Regions from separate parts of the Homo sapiens genome. Here region 2 is linked to region 1. Evidence: fine-mapped expression QTL. A gene starts in region 1. The other region holds a variant in brackets. All regions are shown on one strand. Distances are between the middles of the regions.

Region 1 (9,446 bases):
TTCATGGATAAAACTTCATACCTACTTAATACCTATTTTTCCTTCCCTCAGCCTCTGACAAGCACTATTTACTCTGTTTCTATGAGTTGGACTATTTTATATACTTCCTATAAGTGGTATCATGCAGTATTTGTCCTTCTGTGACTGGCTTATTTCACTTAGCATAATTTCATCAAGGTTCACTCATGTTGTCATATGTGACAGGATTCCATTTGTTATTATGACTGAATTATTTCAATTGTATGTACATGCCACTTTCATCAGTCATAGACATTTCAATTGTTTCCATTTCTTGACTTTTGTTAATAGTGCTGAGATAAACATAAAAGTGCAAAAGTGCAAATACCTCCTTACAATCCTGATTTTAATTCTTTTGGCTGTATACCCAGAAGTGGGACTGCTAGATTGTATGATAGGTCTATTTTTCGTTTTTAGGCAATGCTACACTGTTTTCCACAGTGGCTGCACCATTTTACATTTCTATCAACAGTGTACAATTGTTCCAACTTCTTCATATTTTCAGCAATACTTATTTTTCTATTCCTTTGAGAGTAGCCATCCTAACAGATGTGAGATAATATCTCAGTATCGCTTTGATTTGCATTTTCCTGATAGTGATGTTGAGCACGTTTTCTTATACCTGTTAGCCAATTGTATGTCTTCTTTGGAAAATCATCTGTTCAAGTCCTTTGCTCATTTTCTAATTTTCGTTTTTGTTATAGATTTGAAGAAGCTCCTTGTATATTTTGGATTTTAACCTCTTGTTAGATGTATGCAAATATTTTCTTCCATTCCATAAGAGAACTTTTTTTATTGCTTATTGTTTTCTTTGCTGTGCAGAAGATGTTTAGTTTGATGTAGTCCAATTTGTTTATTTTTGCTTTTGTTGCATTTGTTTCTGGTACCGTATCCAAGAAGTACTTGGCAAGACCAAACAGATCACTTTGCTCTGATGCCTGAGCAGCAGCTGAGGCAAGCTGTTCAGTGCTGATTAAACTACTATGTAAAGTACAAACCCTCCCTGAGGTGATAACCATGGCCAGATACAACAGCCCTCCAAATTATCCCCATCCTTTTAAAACTGTATAAAATACTAAATATATAATTCTTATTATATATGATAAAAGTCATAAAGCTTTTTCCTTGTGTTTTTTTTTTTCCAGGAGTTTTACAGTTTCAGGTTGTAATTTAAGTCTTTAATCCCATTTGAGTTGATTTTTGTACATAACATAAGGGTCCAATTTCATTTTTTTATGTGAATATGCAATTTTTCCAACACATATGTTGAAAAGACACTTTTATTTCCTTATGATCAGTTCTGCTGATTGGGCCATGCTATTTCTTTTTTTTTAAAATAAACATTATAGAATTAGTAAGCATTTTTACTTTCTTTTTATTGTGATGATTTTACTTTAGTTCTAGGACACATATGAAGAACATGCAGGTTTGTTACATAGGTATACACATGCCATGGTGGTTTGCTGCACCCATCAACCCGTCATCTACATTAGGTATTTCTCCTAATGCTATCCCTCCCCTATCCCACCACCCCCGCAACAGGCTTCAGGGTGTGATGTTTCCCTCCCTGTGTCCATGTGTTCTCATTGTTCAACTCCCACTTATGAGTGAAAACATGTGGTGTTTGGTTTTCTGTCCTTGTGATAGTTTGTGGAGAATGATGGTTTTCAGCTTCATCCATATCCCTGCAAAGGACATGAACTCATCCTTTTTTATGGCTGCATAGTATTCCATAGTGTATAGGTACCACATTTTCTTTATCCAGTCTTTCACTGATAGGCATTCAGGTTGGTTCCAAAGGGCTAATATCCAGAATCTACAAGGAACTTAAACAAATTTACAGGAAAAAAACAAATGACCCCATCAAAAAGTGAGCAAAGGATATGAATAGACACTTCTCAAAAGAAGATATTTATGCAGTCAGCAAACATATGAAAAAAAGCTCATCATAACTGGTCATTAGAGAAATGCAAATCAAAACCACAATGAGATACCATCTCATGCCAGTTAGAATGGCGATCATTAAAAAGTCAGGAAACAGCAGATGCTGGAGACAATGTGGAGAAATAGGAATGCTTTTACACAGTTGGTGGGAGTGTAAGTTAGTTCAACCATTGTGGAAGACAGTGTGGCAATTCCTCAAGGATCTAGAACCATAAATACCATTTGACCCAGCAATCCCATTACTGGCTATATACCCAAAGGATTATAAATCATTCTACTATAAAAACACATGCACACATATGTATATTGTGGCACTATTCACAATGGGCCATACTATTTCTTTGGTCACAAGGTTATCACATGTTTGGCATTCTTGCTAAGATGATTCTGGAACAGGGAAACAGAACAAATAATGTTGATGGACTAAGAGAAGATTGACTAAAAAAATAAGGAGCAGAGTGCCATGATAATCATATTGATATGGATTTGACTATTTAAATACTTTCAAACCAAATCACCATAGAATGAAACTTTGTTTTTTAGGGACTGTTTTCTCACATAAAGACGGGTATGATAATACCTGCCTCACAGAATTTTTAAAGATTAGAAATTAATGTAAATTGATCATGTTAATATATAAATATTTCATAGATGTTGATTCTTTTCTCTTAAAGATAAAATAATTTCCTCTCCTTATCCCAACTTCAGACAAATATTCCTCAGTGCATGTGTTATAGTGCAGTCTCTAAAATTATGTTCCTGCCTTTACTACTAAATTTGACTTGAATATAATGAAACTATATGGAAAAGTAAAGTAATCCAGACTTTCAAGAAGAGAATGTAAAGGACTCTCAGTTTTTCTATGTGAGATCCAAGAACAGGGGAAACCACAAATGTAGAATCAAAATCTTCTCTTGTAGATCATGGAAGTTAGATTATTCAAGCTGCATTTACACTGGAATGAAGTTTGGCATGGATAGCCCCACTGGCTTGTAGAAAGGTCTAAGAGCATCCCACTATTTTCTTTTTGCTTGTTTGTTTCATTTTTGTAAGTTAGTCTAAAATAACTATGCCTATGGAAAAAGTCTACCTCTTTTTGTTCTCCATTAAAATTAATACATACAGTAGGATGATTTATACCATATATATCAGAAGTCAGCCATATTTTCAACTTTTTTGTGACATCATTGGTTTGTCAAATAAGGTATCCTAATTTTTGTTTTACAAAATATTAATGAACACATCATATAACTTTTTTTGTTCCTTCCATTTAAATGATTAAGAGTACAACTAAATCAGATTTTTAAAGACCAAATTGTTGAGGTTAGGAATAAAATCTTATTTTGTGAAAGACTCTCTAGAAAAAGCCAGGATAATTCGTTGACTTAAAGACTGTGAAAAATCTGCAGTTGAGTTGGATGAAGTTGTTGAGCTGTATTTCCTATAAATATATGGGGTTTTTTTTCTAATTTTTCATCCAAAAACCTTACTTTCATTTTTTAAGTCTTATTGAGTAACTTTGAAAGCCAGAGCCTCCCAAAACTGCTGAGTCACCCAGTATCTGTAAAACTTAGCAGTTGCCTCAGCTGAGTATGTCTTCTAAAGATAATGTCGATTGTGTATGGCTGATGGGATTCTAGGACCAAGCAAGAGGTTTTTTTTTTTCCCCCACATACTTAACGTTTCTATATTTCTATTTGAATTCGACTGGACAGTTCCATTTGAATTATTTCTCTCTCTCTCTCTCTCTGACACATTTTATCTTGCCAGGTTCTAAACCTTTAGGAAAAATGGAGCAATTTCCAAAGGAAACCGTAAGTACATATTTCTCTTCCATGCAATTTGTCATTAATATTATTAGGAAAGATGTTTCCTTTAAACTTTCTATACTATCTTTCCCAGGAACATTAATAATTATTTGGCTTTTAACAAATAGATAATTTTACTTTTAACTATTTTTTGTGAACAATAACCTTGAGCTTATGTCTGTGCAGCACCAAGACCCAGTAATGACTTAAGTCGGTTCCCAGAGAGAATAAGTAGGGAGATTGAAGCTAAATAACACCTAGTAACAACGTGAGTCTCCATGTAATGATCTAATTCTATAGCCATGCCAGTAATGGCAATTCACAGAGTAGCAATTATACTTAGGAGGAATAATGGGAGATTAAAATTTAAACTCTATATTAAACATTTTGGCTGAGGTAAGCTAGGGAAAATGGTATCCATATCCAGAAGAATGAAGGTGAACCCTATGGTGATTTTGCTGGATATTGTCACAAACAGGTTGGCTCCCACTCTGGGAAAAGGATACTTATATATTGTTTTAGAGTAAAAGTTTTTATATTTCAAAAATAAATTGCAGACATGCTAATAATTTGAAATTTGTGACAATTGGGCAGAAGATAGCTGAACTTTTGATTTATAGTGTTTGTGAGTAAAGCAAGTAAAGAGTAAATATATGAGATTTATTTTTAAGTATGAAGGAAACAAAATTTTCAAACTGTTGCATATATCATTAACTAAATTAATTGCAAGCCATTCTTAATTATTTATTAAATTAAGTTAAAAATAATAAGCACTTCTCAACACCTTTTTAGCCCTTGAAAGCAATAACATTATATTTCTTTTTATCTATCTGAAATTATGTGATTTTGCTGATTTAAACTTGCTCCATGATCAGTCCAATATAATTATATCTATAGAACTTAAATGCTAGCACAAATTTATGTAAAAAGTGAGGAGAGTCTTCTGGATAATCAAGAATTTTTAACCTAAACAGAAGCTATGTCTGGTTAAAAATTACGTAAATATACTACAGCTCTTCTGACAATAGTCCCTAGAAACTTCAGGATATCTGAATATAGGTCCAACATGAGTAAACACCTTGACACATATAAGCGGGGCAACATGTTAAATATTTGAGAACTAGCAAGTAACAGAATCTTTTTAACTTGCAGGTTGTGGAGAGCAGTGGGCCAAAGGTTTTGGAAACAGCAGAAGAGATCCAGGAGAGGCGTCAGGAAGTGTTGACTCGGTATCAAAGTTTCAAGGAGCGGGTCGCTGAGAGGGGTCAGAAGCTTGAGGATTCCTATCACTTACAAGTTTTCAAGCGAGATGCAGATGATCTGGGGAAGTGGATCATGGAGAAAGTCAATATCTTAACCGATAAGAGCTATGAAGACCCAACTAATATACAGGTCACTCAGTTCTCTTGATTGCCTCAGAGCAGACCCTAAGATCTCTAGAGAAGGAAATAGGTTTTTCTTTATGTTAATGTTAATGGGTATGTGTGGGTACAATTAGATTCCGTTTAGAAACAAAAATAAGTCAGTGGAGTGGGAAGTTAAAGAAATAAATTAATAGAAAATCTAAAAGTGCATTTTCCCTTATGAAGTTGGAGAGGTGAGACTGAGAAAATAAGAATCAAACAAAAAGCAGCAGTTTTTCAGTTGTTGAAAGCACAGAACTGTTTTTTACAATGAACTTCCATTCAGAATATACATTTTTTAATCATTAACCAAGGATATTGCTTATTGATAAGGGCATAGGATACTTTACATATTTTCATGGTGAAGCATTCATCAATGCCAAAAGTAAAAAATTACATCAATTTTTTTTCAGATCCAGCACAAATATTATGGTAATGTAAGTGTATATCTGGTTAATTGTAGTGGGAGTGATGTAATGGAAAAATTAGACTGTCTGTTAGAAACAGTAATTCTGCCTCTAAATAGTCCATGTCTTCATCTTCATAAACATCGGGGTGTTATTTGCAAAGGAGATTTATTCTGTATAGAATTTGATGGTTACAATACTCATCTGAAATTGACCTACAGGCAAAACAGCAACTGCAAATTCAAGAAATTTCTGACAAACCATGTGATTTTTGATATTTTGGGACATTAAGAAGGGAAATAGGGTGAAGAGTCATCAATGCTTCTGAAGCAACTGTCCTCCACTCTTCTCAGAAATATAAGAGTTAACCAGGTTAACTAAAATCCAATTTAGTTAACCTGGTTAACTCAATTGCTATTCATGGCTCTTAAGTTTTTCCTAAAATGTTGTTCATGGGTCTCAAGTTCTAATGAGAGGTTTCAGTAGAAGTTTGGTGAAAGCTCCTACGCGTTTCTGATCACCTAAAATTATAGCATGTGATACCTGTTCTCTACTCTTCTCAGAGAGATGAGTTAACCAGAGTTTTTTTTTTTTCTTCCCTAAATTGCTATTCATGGCTCTTAACTTCAAAAGAGAGGTTTCAGTAGAAGAAATTTGGTGAAAGTGCCTACCCCTTTCTATTCACCTAAAATTATAGCATGTGGTGTTGTCATAATCAGAAGCAATTGATGTTGGACAGGAAACACCTAGAACAAGAGCAAAATAATGTGCTATATTGAATGGATCAATTTATAGATTACAAGAACAGGCACAGCATGCAAAAAAAACTCTCAATTTTTTTTTTTAAAAACCATTATTATAACTATCATCTTTCTCATTGTGCTCTACTTCCAAAAAAAAATCAGTTATTCCTCTTTTCTGATGAGGAAGGACACTGTGTGTTACACTCTTTTATTCCTATGGCAGTCTATTGAGCCTTTAAAATAAGGCTCGGCATAGATCATAAGGCTCAGCATAGCTCAGGACAGTATTTACTGAAAACTTCCTAAAGCCAGTGGGGACAGGAAAATACTCTTTATGGCCTCTGAGTCTGGGACCCTTTGAGAACCTGTGTTTGGTGGCTTTACATAGAGTGAACATTTCCCATGAAGACTGTGCTTCATTAGACAAAAACTCTGATTTCTAAACTTTAGGGGAAATATCAGAAGCATCAATCCCTTGAAGCAGAGGTGCAAACAAAATCAAGACTCATGTCTGAACTGGAAAAAACAAGGGAAGAACGATTTACCATGGGTCATTCTGCCCACGAAGAAACGAAGGTATATGTATGGGCCCTTGAAGAAGTTTCCAATTATTGATTATGTTATCAGGGTTTTAACTGATTATATGAGATATAAACCTTGAGTGGCTGGCTTATACCCAGGACTCCTGCCTCTTATCTTCCCCTGGGGTTGAGGCATAAAAAATGATGGGATATCTTCGTGTTTCTTGGGGTGAAGAGAGCTGTGATATTAAAGCTGTCATTAAATGGCATAAAATTCCTCCTATAACAGTGCAGGATAATTTGGCTCAAGATCAAGCCCACTTAAACCTGTTCCACATTATCCAGATCAATTAGTTTTTTCCAATGTTCTTTCTAATTATTTCCTCTAACCTCAATGTCCTTGTCTCTTAACTTCTCCAAATAAGGAATGCTCTCTCATTTGAATGTTTTCCAAAATATTTTTCCTTTGTCTATGATGCCTCTTTCTTTTCATACACCATACCCTATGACTACTATTGCACCTCTCCAAACTGTCCCTTCTTATTACTTCTAAAAACTCCCAAATGTCATGTAGTCAGAAAATTTTCTCTGAACATCTAGAAATGAAGATCATCACTATTTCAATAAGGATTCATACTCTGTAATCTATTATTAATGTAACAGCTATTTTTGGACTTAATCTACGAACTCTTCCAAATGTTTGTGCTAATATTGTCAATTCAATTTTTTTGTGTGTGAGTGAACTTTTTACTGTTTATGTATTTTTTTAATTGTCAAAACAAATTTGCATTATATATCTTAAAACTGGGTCTGGCCTTTCTATATATAGCATAAAAATTCTAGCCCATTCTGTCATCAAAATATGGTCAACGGACACAGATTTTAGCCAGAATAGAATCTTATTTTAAAGAAGAACCCATAAAAGGAAAATTTCAAAACTTGTTTATTTGTATAAAGTATAATTAACTTTTGTATTATGCACAGTTTTGCATGTAACCAGCATCTACATTAATTACAATATTTGAGAAATGTTTGAAACATCTTCATTTCTGTCAGAATCACTGGGGCTATAGCAAATGGTACCATTGCGGGGTTTAACGACATATGTGGTCCACATGCTACCCAGAGCAATGGAGTAGTTGAAAAATATAAGATTCTTGAAGATATGACATAGGTGGCAATTTCAGTTATATAAGACAGGTAATACATAATGTTCTGAGTTAATCTGGCATTCAAAGCCCTCTGTAGATTCTCAAACTGTATAGTCCCAAAACACTGTTATTGTTTCGGTGCCAATGATTTCCTTATAACTTATAAAAATTATAGCTCTCACACTTTCTGGCAGACAATTCATGCTAAGTTTCTCCTATGCCTTTGCTATTGCTGTTTGCTCTTCTTAGAACATGTTATGCTTATGATTGACCTGTCAAAAATCTTTCTGCTCCATAAGGCTCAGTTCAAATGAACACTTTTCCATGCTTTCTTCCTCCTTCCCATCTTATTGTTTGTAATTATTCCATCCTTTAAAACTGCAAAGCATTTTTACAAATTGTTCTCTTATGTAAGATCGCATTTGGCTTGGCTTGTTAGCTATTTCCATATATCTATCCTATTTCCTCTTTTAAATGTTTGTTGAGCAACTAATGCATGAGTAACTGAGAGAAGAATTTTTATCCAGGTCTCTTTCTGCACAAGTCTCTGAGTGTTTCCCTGCTCCCAGTGTCTGTGGCTGAGTGGTTTTGCCCCTCTTTCCTAAAGGCCCATATAGAGGAGCTACGCCACCTGTGGGACCTGCTGTTAGAGCTGACCCTGGAGAAGGGTGACCAGTTGCTGCGGGCCCTGAAGTTCCAGCAGTATGTACAGGAGTGTGCTGACATCTTAGAGTGGATTGGAGACAAGGTATCGAACTTAAAACAGCAATCACACAGGGCCTCCCACTCCTCTGTCCCAGGTACCCCATAGCAAATTACTGCAGACTACTCACAAGGAAGTCAGGATGTCTGTTCCTGGCTTTGTTCTTTGGAACAAGAGGAAATTGGGGCCAAAATGTAGGGGTATCTGGAGGTCAACATTGTATGGAAGTAAGTCTTAACATATGGATCTGAATATGAAAAAGGCAAGACTTACACAAAGACCATGCATTGAAAGATAATTAGGCTCATCTCTCTTCCACTTCCATGATTTTTAACTCCTTCTCCTATGTTTTTGCTCTTACTCTGGGGTCTGGCTGAGAGTATTGACAGCTCTTTCTCTAATCCTTTGTGTCTCAGTGCCTATAAAGATGGAGGGTTTTATTTTTCTAAATACTAAAGGAATAATTTAATAGTTAGGACTAAAGATTTAGATAAGCAAATGCCTAACAAAATACTTTCGTAGATACTGATATGTTGAATTGAGTAGAAACAGGATGAATTTATCCCTCATGTTTCAAAACACAAAAGGGTACTTTCAGGGTCTCTTGCCAGTAATGCCACAAACTTGCTAAAGAACTGCCCGAAAGAGCACTTTCCCTTGTGCCAAGGTGCTACCTTAACAAATATACTTCTGCTGCTGGCCTTTTCCAGGAGAGCTTCTCCCAGTCTCCCCCAGTATCTCCATTTGA
Region 2 (9,446 bases), 30 kb after region 1:
CTGTAATCCCAGCACTTTGGGAGGCCGAGGCGAGTGGATCATGAGGTCAGGAGATCGAGACCATCCTGGCTAACAAGGTGAAACCCCGTCTCTACTAAAAATACAAAAAATTAGCCGGGCGCGGTGGCGGGCGCCTGTAGTCCCAGCTACTCGGGAGGCTGAGGCAGGAGAATGGCGTGAACCCGGGAAGCGGAGCTTGCAGTGAGCCGAGATTGCGCCACTGCAGTCCGCAGTCCGGCCTGGGCGACAGAGCGAGACTCCGTCTCAAAAAAAAAAAAAAAAAAAAAAAAAATAATGCTAAGACTATTATTTTCTTTTACAGACTTATTCTTTTATAAGCATAGAATGGAGTTTCCCAGAGCCTAGAGATGGGTGATGATGTCACTGTTCTGTCTAATGGAGTATATGCTTGTACATTCTTTTCTTTCAAAGCTTCTTGTTTTGATTTCTTATATGGGAACTATTAATCAGTCTAACTATATAAGCAAAAGATATTTTGCATTCTTAATAATTTTTAAAATTGTAAAGGGATCCCAAAAGCACAAATTTGAAAGCCACTATTCCAGGAATTAAAATATAGATTTTTTTAATCTATCATAGTCTAATTTCAAATAATATTATGCATTTCATGTTTAATATAAGATTCTTAAATTGATACTTCCATTTGTTTTCACCCTTGTGCTATTGGTGTCACATATTTTAAATTTTTACATGTTATATACCCTATAATTCAACATCATTATCTTTGCTTTGGTAGTCAACTGGTTTTGAATGAGATTATTAAATGAGAAAAAAATTCACCCTCATAGTTCCCATTTCCAGTATTCTTCATTCCTTTCTTTAGGTTAATATTTTCATTTGTATTATTTTTCTTCTGCTTGAAGAACTTCATCTAACATTCCTTATATTGCAGGTCTTCTATCCATAAATTCTCTAGACTTTTGTTCATCTAAAGGTCTTCATTCTACCTTCCTTTTTGAAATATATTTTCACTACATATAAAATTCTTGGTTGACAACTTCTTTCTTCCAGTATTTTAAAGATGTGCTGTCTTGTCTTCTGACTTTGCAAGCTTCTGATAAGAAGTCTGCTGTCATCATGATCTTTGCTCCTCTGTATGTAATATGTCTTTTTTTCCCCCTCTACCTGTTTTAAAGCTTTTCTCTTTATCACTGGTATTAAACAACTTGATTATGCTATAACTTGATGGAGTTTTCCTTGTTTATTCAGCTCGGTGATTGTTGAGCTCCTTGGATCTGTTTTGTTATGGTACTCCTGGGGCAGGGTTTATTAGGGGACTGATTTAGAGATGAAAGTAATATTGAGATATGTTACTCTTCTGAGGACCCTATCTCATGTATTACAATATTTTTCCACTTTGATGGGTGGAATGTTAACTATTTTCATTCTTAATTGAGGCCTAGAAGTTGTTTGTCCACTGCTTTTAAGTCACTCTTTTCTCACCCTCCAGGATTTCCTTATACATGTGTGCATATGAGTAATCAGACAAATACTCTAGGGAACTTCTCTGAAAAGGTCTATCTCTCTGTAACACCCTTCTCTTTGACACTCAACCTCACAAGTTCTAGTTCTCTTGTCTTTCCCAAATGTTGATCTCTGTGTCCTCAATTCAGTGTGACTGGTGGTTCTATCTGGGTTAGCTACCCAGGCCTACAGCCCAGAAACCTCCTGAGGCATAAGCTTGGCAATTATAAAATATATCTCATTTATTTCCCTTCTCTCAGGAATCAGAGTCCTCTCTCCATTGTCTGAAAATCATTTTATCTTACAGCTTTTCCTGTTTTCTAGTTGTTTAGGGTGGAAGAGCAACTCTCATAGTAATAACTCCTTTATGGGAAGAAATGGAAATCAGCTGATTTTTCTGCTTCATCTAAAGAAGACATGATTTTGGAACTCTCAGTCACCCACACATTAGTATTCTGTTTTCAAGTCTGTCTTTGTCAGACAATACCAACCCATTCACCACCACATGCATATCTCCCATTAGTACCTTTTGTTACTTAATCTCACTTAGGATATTTCAATTCCCAGGTAACTCAAGAAAAATATAACGTCGACTAAATAACATACCATTTTTATCACTTCCTTTCTCTTTTCCAAGGTACCAAAAGGATTAGAGTATGGTAAACACTCATGAGGATCATACTCACCTTTTCTATAATTACTCCATAGGACACTTTGCTGCAGAAGATGTGGCCTCTAGGGTCAAGAGTTTGAACCAGAATATGGAGTCTCTCCGTGCTCGAGCTGCTAGGCGACAAAATGATCTTGAAGCCAATGTCCAGTTCCAGCAGTACCTGGCTGACCTGCATGAAGCAGAAACATGGATCAGAGAGAAGGAACCTATTGTAGATAATACTAACTATGGTGCTGATGAAGAAGCAGCTGGGGTAAGGTGGGGGTGGGTTTAACATTGTGAATCCTCAACAAACGCAACCAAATTATCAATTTAGGGTTTGCTTAGGTTGTGGGACAGCTACAGATTCTGCCAGATTATTTGGGGTTTCCAGAGTGGTCGCCGTTGGCCTTCATCTGCTGAGACTCCCTCAGAGTTGACAGGAATCCCAAAAGATATGCTACATTTTTCTCATCCCATGGAGATTCATATACTCTTTAGAGATTATCTAAATCAAAAAAGTGTGATCAGAGTCATAGTCATAATCCGATCCTAAACTTTCCAGAGTAACCTTGAGCATTTATAAATTAATCATGGTTTTAAGATAGAGACACCTTAATTACTTGATTAAAATAAAATTGGACAGATATGTTGGGGCAAGAAGAACCACAAAGGTTATAATCACACTTTTTATCCATTTATTTGTTTTGCACATTGTCCCATAGGAAGCTGGTATAGTATTTCACAAACCTTTGGAACTAGAAATTATTGGTATGCATATTTTAAGTTACACTAATGTTTATCCTATAAAGTAACAGTATCAACAGCATCCTCTTTTCAGCTATAATCTGTGTTGATAAAAATACTTTTGCAAGTTTGAGTTAATTTTGATTTTAGTAAACATATTGAAATTATAATTTATTAATTCCTATTTCCTTCATGCTTGCAAATTTAGGGTTAAAAATAACTTTATGATAGATGGAAAGCAGCTTTTACCAGGATTTAAGACAAATAGCATAACCCAAAATAATAGTAGTTGAAATAATAGTGTTCCTCCTATATTCATTCTGATGATCTTCCATCAATAAATGCAGGCTCTTCTAAAGAAGCATGAGGCCTTTCTATTAGATCTCAATTCATTTGGAGACAGTATGAAAGCTCTGCGGAATCAGGCAAACGCCTGCCAGGTAAGACTAACTTAGCGATGACAGGATTCACACTTCCCACCACAAAGAAAAAGAAATTGTCTTTATTGCTGATTTTTTACTTTCTACAACCCCAAAAACAATGGCAAAGAAAACACTAAGTTCTATGACCCTTGTATGCAGGAACTGTAGCATCCACAATTTAGTCCAAAGGAGACTTTGTCCAAAAGAGGTTTTTGATAAATGGTATCATGTCTTCATTGATGTATTTTTGGCTTTCCTCTTTCCTTCCTTTTATATTTCTACCCTTCTTTCTTTCTTACTTTTCTTCATTTATGTCTCTCCTTCTTATCTTTCTTCTTTACTCCCTTCTTTTGTTTCTTAATTTTTAATGCCAAAACTTATTAAATGTCTACTATATGTAAGTATGAATAAAAAATCCTGATTTGCAGGAAAATTACAGTCTATTAGGAGGCCAGATGTTTAACAGTAAGTGCATATAATAGATGTATGAACAGGACAAAGAGTCTCAAAGAAAGGCCTCTTGTGTTCTCTTGAAATAACAGTACTGGAAAACAGGAAAATTTTTGTAAGCTAAGGGAAACCGCCTGATCTGAATTATTAAGGAAAGACAGATGGGTAGTTTACTGTGCAGAGAAAGAGGATAAGCGTTTTTCTAGTCAATAAACCATGAGAGCAAATGCACTGAGGCACAAAACAATCAAGTTTTGTGGAAAATGCAATTGGTTAAGAATGTGAGAATGGAAGATGCAATTGGTTGAGAATATGAGAATGGCTCAGGTACAGGGCAAAACTGGGTGTCATGAAGATTAATTGAACTGGAATCAAATAAATGTTATAACAATGTCTACTATATGTAGTGGTAGAAAAAAAGAGACACACTTCTTACCTTCAAGGAATTCTTTCTAATGAGAGGTTGTTAATCCACACATTCAGAGTAAACAAAAGACGTAGACTCAGTCTGTCAAATCAGTGTATATTTACAGACCTCCTATACTGTGCCTTCACCAGGCTCTGCACAGTGGGTGCCTAAACAAGAACAGAAGGATTTATATATTGTGTGGTATGAGGAAACATGTTACCTAAAGGAGATGAAATTAGAGGGCTCTGTCGGTGGAGGTGCATATTCAACTCCAACCTGAGGAAGGGGTGGGTCATTCCTTAGGAAGAGGGGTTATGTTTTGCTTGATTTCTCAGAGACATGAAATTGGCAGAAAGTAAAAATCAGAGAAAATTCTACCTTAGAATGCAGGCTGCTTACTAAACTGAGACACAAGATACTTTTAATGATCTCAGTTAATGTTCTCAGTTTTTAAAATTCTGTGGCCTTTCCTGTGCTATTGATCACTCATATCTCAAATAGAAGGTCCGGAGCTCCTGACATAGTAACTTAAAGGCCAGAAGGAGTGGGAAGAATTATCACTGGAGGTACAGGGAAAGGTGACGACAGAGAGTGGGTCTTTTCACTTTCTCAAACAATTTTTTGAAATGTTGATGTGTATAATCCTGTTGGACCTTCTTAAGGGAGTACACTTCTTAAAATGTACTCCTCCCATTTTAAGAACTGATGGCTTAGAGCATTTAATACGTTTCTGACAAATTATGTATTTCCTTCCTTGCTTTGGGTTTATAGTTCCCAACCTGCCTGTCCCCGATAAGTGTCAGAATGGAGCAGTCTCTCTGAAGACCACATACTTTAATCTCTGCAGCCACGTAAGAGGTTCCAGCCAGAGGCTCTTTTCTCCTGGGAAGCCTAAAGGACTACTCACCCCTGGTAAGCTGTACAGGGAGATATTTCCAGTGCGTGACTGACACCTGCTTCCTGTTTTTATTCAGCAACAACAGG[C/A]TGCACCAGTGGAGGGAGTTGCTGGAGAACAAAGGGTCATGGCTTTATATGACTTCCAGGCCCGCAGCCCCCGAGAAGTCACCATGAAGAAAGGTGATGTCTTAACGCTGCTCAGTTCCATCAATAAGGTGACTTTTCCTTCTAATCTTTCCATCAAAAAGTGGCTCTTTCAGAACCATCTCTCCCAATCCTGCCAGATATTCATATTTTTACCATCTAACATTTATTTTATTATTTTATTTCTTGAATAACTATAACTGATTAGGTAGTATTTTTCCTGTAGATATTTTGCAGGATCCTACACATATCTTTTGGAATTATAATCCCAATGTTGCAGTTAAAATCATAAAGAATTGAAGTTATATAATTAGCCCAAAGATATAGAAAGTATGAGTGGAAATTCTATAATATATTTAAAGGGCTAAGCTGTCTCTTTCTTTCTTCCTCTTTGCTTGTTCCTCTTCTGTGCCAGTATTTCTAGTGATAAAATAACAATGTCTGGGGTTAGAAGGAGCCTACCAAAAGATGAGTCTTTTGTCAACTTGATTTTCTTTAGATCTTGTGCCTGGAAGAACAGTGATAAAATATTGGTTGAGATTTTTAAATATATTTTTCATAAAAACTGAAGTAATTTTTTATACTCTGATACCTAATTAATCTACAAAAATTCTTAAGAAGAAAAGAAAATAGTTTGGGCTATAGTTATTCCAAAGACAAGTAAATGTTTGGAGCGGCAGATGTTTCATTATCAAATAATGTGTGCCAGTCCATTTTTTCTTTGTCTAGGCCTCTTCATTATTTTTTGAGGAAATTAGCCTCAGGGTTTTGGTAGATGTGGCAACAGTTCAAAAATAAAAAATAAAGTAACACTCAGGTATATGAATGTCAGAGCAATTCACATTTTTCAGACCTCTGCAAGAAGAATAGAAGAGAAGAATTTTTGTGCAATATCCTCTTACACAGACGCTCCACTGCCAAGAAATCCAGCTAGAGCCTGGCTCCATGTGTTTTTTGTAAATTCCTCATGAACAAAGTGCCCCATCATTAAAAGAGCTGTCTTGGGTGTTTGAAAATCTCTCCAAAGTTAAGGGTCTAACATTAGGTATCAGATTACTTGATTTCAGGGGCTTGTCTATGCAATTCTTCATTTCATTTCTTGGTCATATATGAAAATTATGTGCCACTCATTAGACATGGTTAGCTTATCTTTGCCATTAACCTGTGCCTGGGCCAAGAGACTTAGTGTTGAAGTCTCTCCCGTTTGTTGCTTTTCCAAGAATTAATGACGGAGTGGGGATCTGCTCTCCCTTCAGGACTGGTGGAAGGTGGAAGCTGCTGATCATCAGGGCATTGTCCCAGCTGTCTATGTCAGAAGACTGGCCCACGATGAGTTCCCGATGCTCCCACAGCGGCGACGAGAAGAGCCAGGAAACATCACCCAGCGCCAGGAGCAGATTGAGAACCAGTAAGTTCTGGAGCCTGGAGAACTGAACAGTATTTGGTCAGACATTTTTCGCCAAAGGCATTTCTTCTCATGACCCTGCATCTGTTAGATTTGAGATGCCACAGAAAATCTGAAGATTTTAAGAATCGAAAGTAAACCTAGAATCTTTTAAATGTTTCGGTTTCTTTTTGAGGAAAGGCAACCCCAGAATCATTCCATCAATTTCCTGAGGTCATACACTTCACAGAGCTCTTCTGATTCCCTGCCCCACATTCTTTCAAGGTTATTAAAGTCTCCTGACATCTATATGAACTTTGTTTACTATGCCAGGCTTTTCATATCCAATTGTCAGTTACCATGTAAAAATGTCACTTTTATGAAATGGGAAAGGAATGTTGCCAGTCATACTATTGGGTCACTGGCATTTTTACTATTTTTAAATGCAATCCTATGTGTTTATCTTTTTGCCCCCAAGGCTGTTTTCCTTCTAAGTTTATTTCCTCCTCTCTTCTACTATTCTTTTGCTTTTGATTTGTTTTCCCTTTCATTTTTGTTCCTTCTTTCTCTATGTTTGTCACTCAGCCTCTACTCTTCTGTATTTTCTCCTTCTTTTATTCCACTTTTCCCAATTCTCCATCCAGATACCGCTCCCTCTTGGATCGGGCAGAAGAACGCAGACGTCGTCTATTGCAACGTTATAATGAATTTTTATTGGCCTATGAGGCAGGAGACATGCTGGAATGGATTCAAGAGAAAAAGGCAGAAAACACTGGAGTGGAACTAGATGATGTTTGGGAGCTGCAGAAAAAGTTTGATGAGTTCCAAAAGGTGAGAAAGAGGAACCTTCTCTTGAAGGTTGCCATTGTTTGCTTTTATCCCTCAGCATATTCTACATGATCTTTTAATTTATTTCACACTTGTTAAATATTCTCCCCAAAGCTATTGGCAACTCTGTGGCTGAGATCTCCCTCTAGGTATTGTAGTTGCTAATAATTGGAAGGGAAATGCAGAGAAAACTAGTTACCCTAACTGCAGCCTTCAGTGCCTGCCACTCCAAAATCCTCCCTGGAGTGCTGGTCTTCCTGAATTCTTCACAACTTGCCCTATACTATACTTTGTTTCCAGTGCCCAGGTTGGGATAAGGTATTGTTGTACCATGTGTAAAGTTTAATTATGGGGCAGAGTTTGGGGTGGAAGAAGGAAGAACCTGACTTGACAAACAATTTCTAATTTTTTGCCTACCTAAAACCCTTTCAATATTCTTTCTTCCCTTAGATTTTTTTCCATTATCTTAACTAGCAGTGAGTGTACATTCCTTCTTTTCTTTTTCTTTTGATATCTTCCACGTGGGATTTAACACACACACACGCGCACACACACACACAGAGAGAGAGAGAGAGAGAGAGAGAGAGAGCACTCCCTAGAGCTGTTTCTTACAATATCTCATAATATAGGCAGATAATAACTCAGTTAAAGAAATCTTTAAAGCTGGAGTTTGTACTGGTAGAAAAGGATGTTACACAGCTCAGGTATCAATCCCTCTAATGGTATAATTTAATCCAGGGGAGATTTTAAGAAATCTAGAAAAATGGCTGTGCTTCATACTACAGATAAATAATAGTTATCTTGACAAGTTTTGGACAGCCACTAGGTGTCAAGATCTTTAAGGATACTCTTCTCAGTGGTGGATTGGAGGAGAGGAGCTTGGTGTGTATTACGGTGATGTAGGGGCAGAGATGGACAGGTAAGTATGGTAGATTCTTGATGAGGGGATTTACACTGCTTTGGATGAATTTACACTGCTTTGGATGAATTTTCCCATTCAGGATTTGAATACCAATGAGCCTCGGCTAAGGGATATCAACAAGGTAGCTGATGATCTACTATTTGAAGGACTTCTAACACCAGAAGGAGCTCAAATCCGGCAGGTAACTAAGGCTCCCTCCATTCCTCCTCACTACCAGGTTGGGCTTTGGGAGTCCTCATTTCACTTCAACATGGAACTTTATATTCTGCAGACCCACTAGAACATGCAGAAGGTAACAGCAGTATGGAATTAGCTACAGGAAAGGCCAAAGACAATAGCCCAAATAGTCCCTGTATTTTTGTTGTCTAAATTAACTTAATTAAAGCAGGCTCATTTGTTAACATATATTGAGTGTCCTCCATGCCCTCACATATGTCATTTCATGGATGGGGTGGGAAAGGAGACAAAAGTATTGGTAGCAGAAATTAAGATGTAGCTTTAAAAGGCAGGATTAGGAGGTTTAGATAATATTACACTGGACATTAGGTAAATTAGATTTACATCATAGCTGTATTCTTGTCTGACTGTGTGTCCTCAGACAAGTCTCTTCATTTCTAAAAACCTCAGTTTCTATATCTGAAAGCAAATATTGGATAGCACAATATCCAAATTACAATATCCAAACCTCCTCTTAATCTTCTGTACCAGGCTACACCAAATTAAACGTAAAGTTTTTTCCTTACATGTCCACCCAATAATATAATTGAATTTGAACTGCAATTTTGGAATATATACATTTGAACTGATCTAAAATTCTTAAATTACAACACATACTCACCTCTCTTTCACTGTCACACACAGAAGAAATTCTCAATTACATGAATTCAAAGACAATGCAGATAAAGAAGCTATGATAGTGGGAAGAGGTTGATCAAGAAAGTTTACTGGAAGACACAGATTCTGATCAACGTGCTGAAGAAGGAGAATATAGGTCAGTAGAGACAGAGGAGAGGCCATTCTTGACCTGATTCAGATCTGGATCTATGATTCCATAAAAGATCTAATGAACATTAATAAATGTTCAGTCTAGTTCTCTGGAATGCCAT

Alleles and levels. Positions count from the first base shown, and alleles are read on the strand shown. Sizes are in standard deviations (SD) of each study's normalised expression.
With allele A in place of C in region 2, the expression in breast of the gene that starts at base 3,555 in region 1 is higher (large effect, 1.6 SD a copy in GTEx).

What was found. PIP is the estimated chance that this variant, and not a neighbour inherited with it, causes the effect.
Region 2: its variant is fine-mapped to the expression of SPTA1 in breast (GTEx, PIP above 0.99). The same link has a PIP of 0.9 or more in lung, spleen, subcutaneous fat and visceral fat.

Annotation. Positions count from the first base shown.
Region 1 is chr1:158,680,824-158,690,269 of GRCh38, reverse strand. SPTA1 (spectrin alpha, erythrocytic 1) reads left to right here and starts at 3,555. Exons shown (of 52, transcript NM_003126.4): 1 at 3,555-3,776; 2 at 4,923-5,162; 3 at 6,774-6,899; 4 at 8,603-8,743. The coding sequence starts at 3,753. RefSeq lists a cis regulatory region at 837-1,134 and a silencer at 1,494-1,708.
Region 2 is chr1:158,650,442-158,659,887 of GRCh38, reverse strand. It overlaps SPTA1 (spectrin alpha, erythrocytic 1), which reads left to right. Exons shown (of 52, transcript NM_003126.4): 19 at 2,194-2,411; 20 at 3,232-3,324; 21 at 5,140-5,277; 22 at 6,463-6,614; 23 at 7,235-7,421; 24 at 8,420-8,521. Among named protein-coding and RNA genes, the nearest start is that of SPTA1, 32 kb to the left of the region's middle. RefSeq lists a silencer at 982-1,182. The variant C/A (reference allele first, on the strand shown) is at 5,150.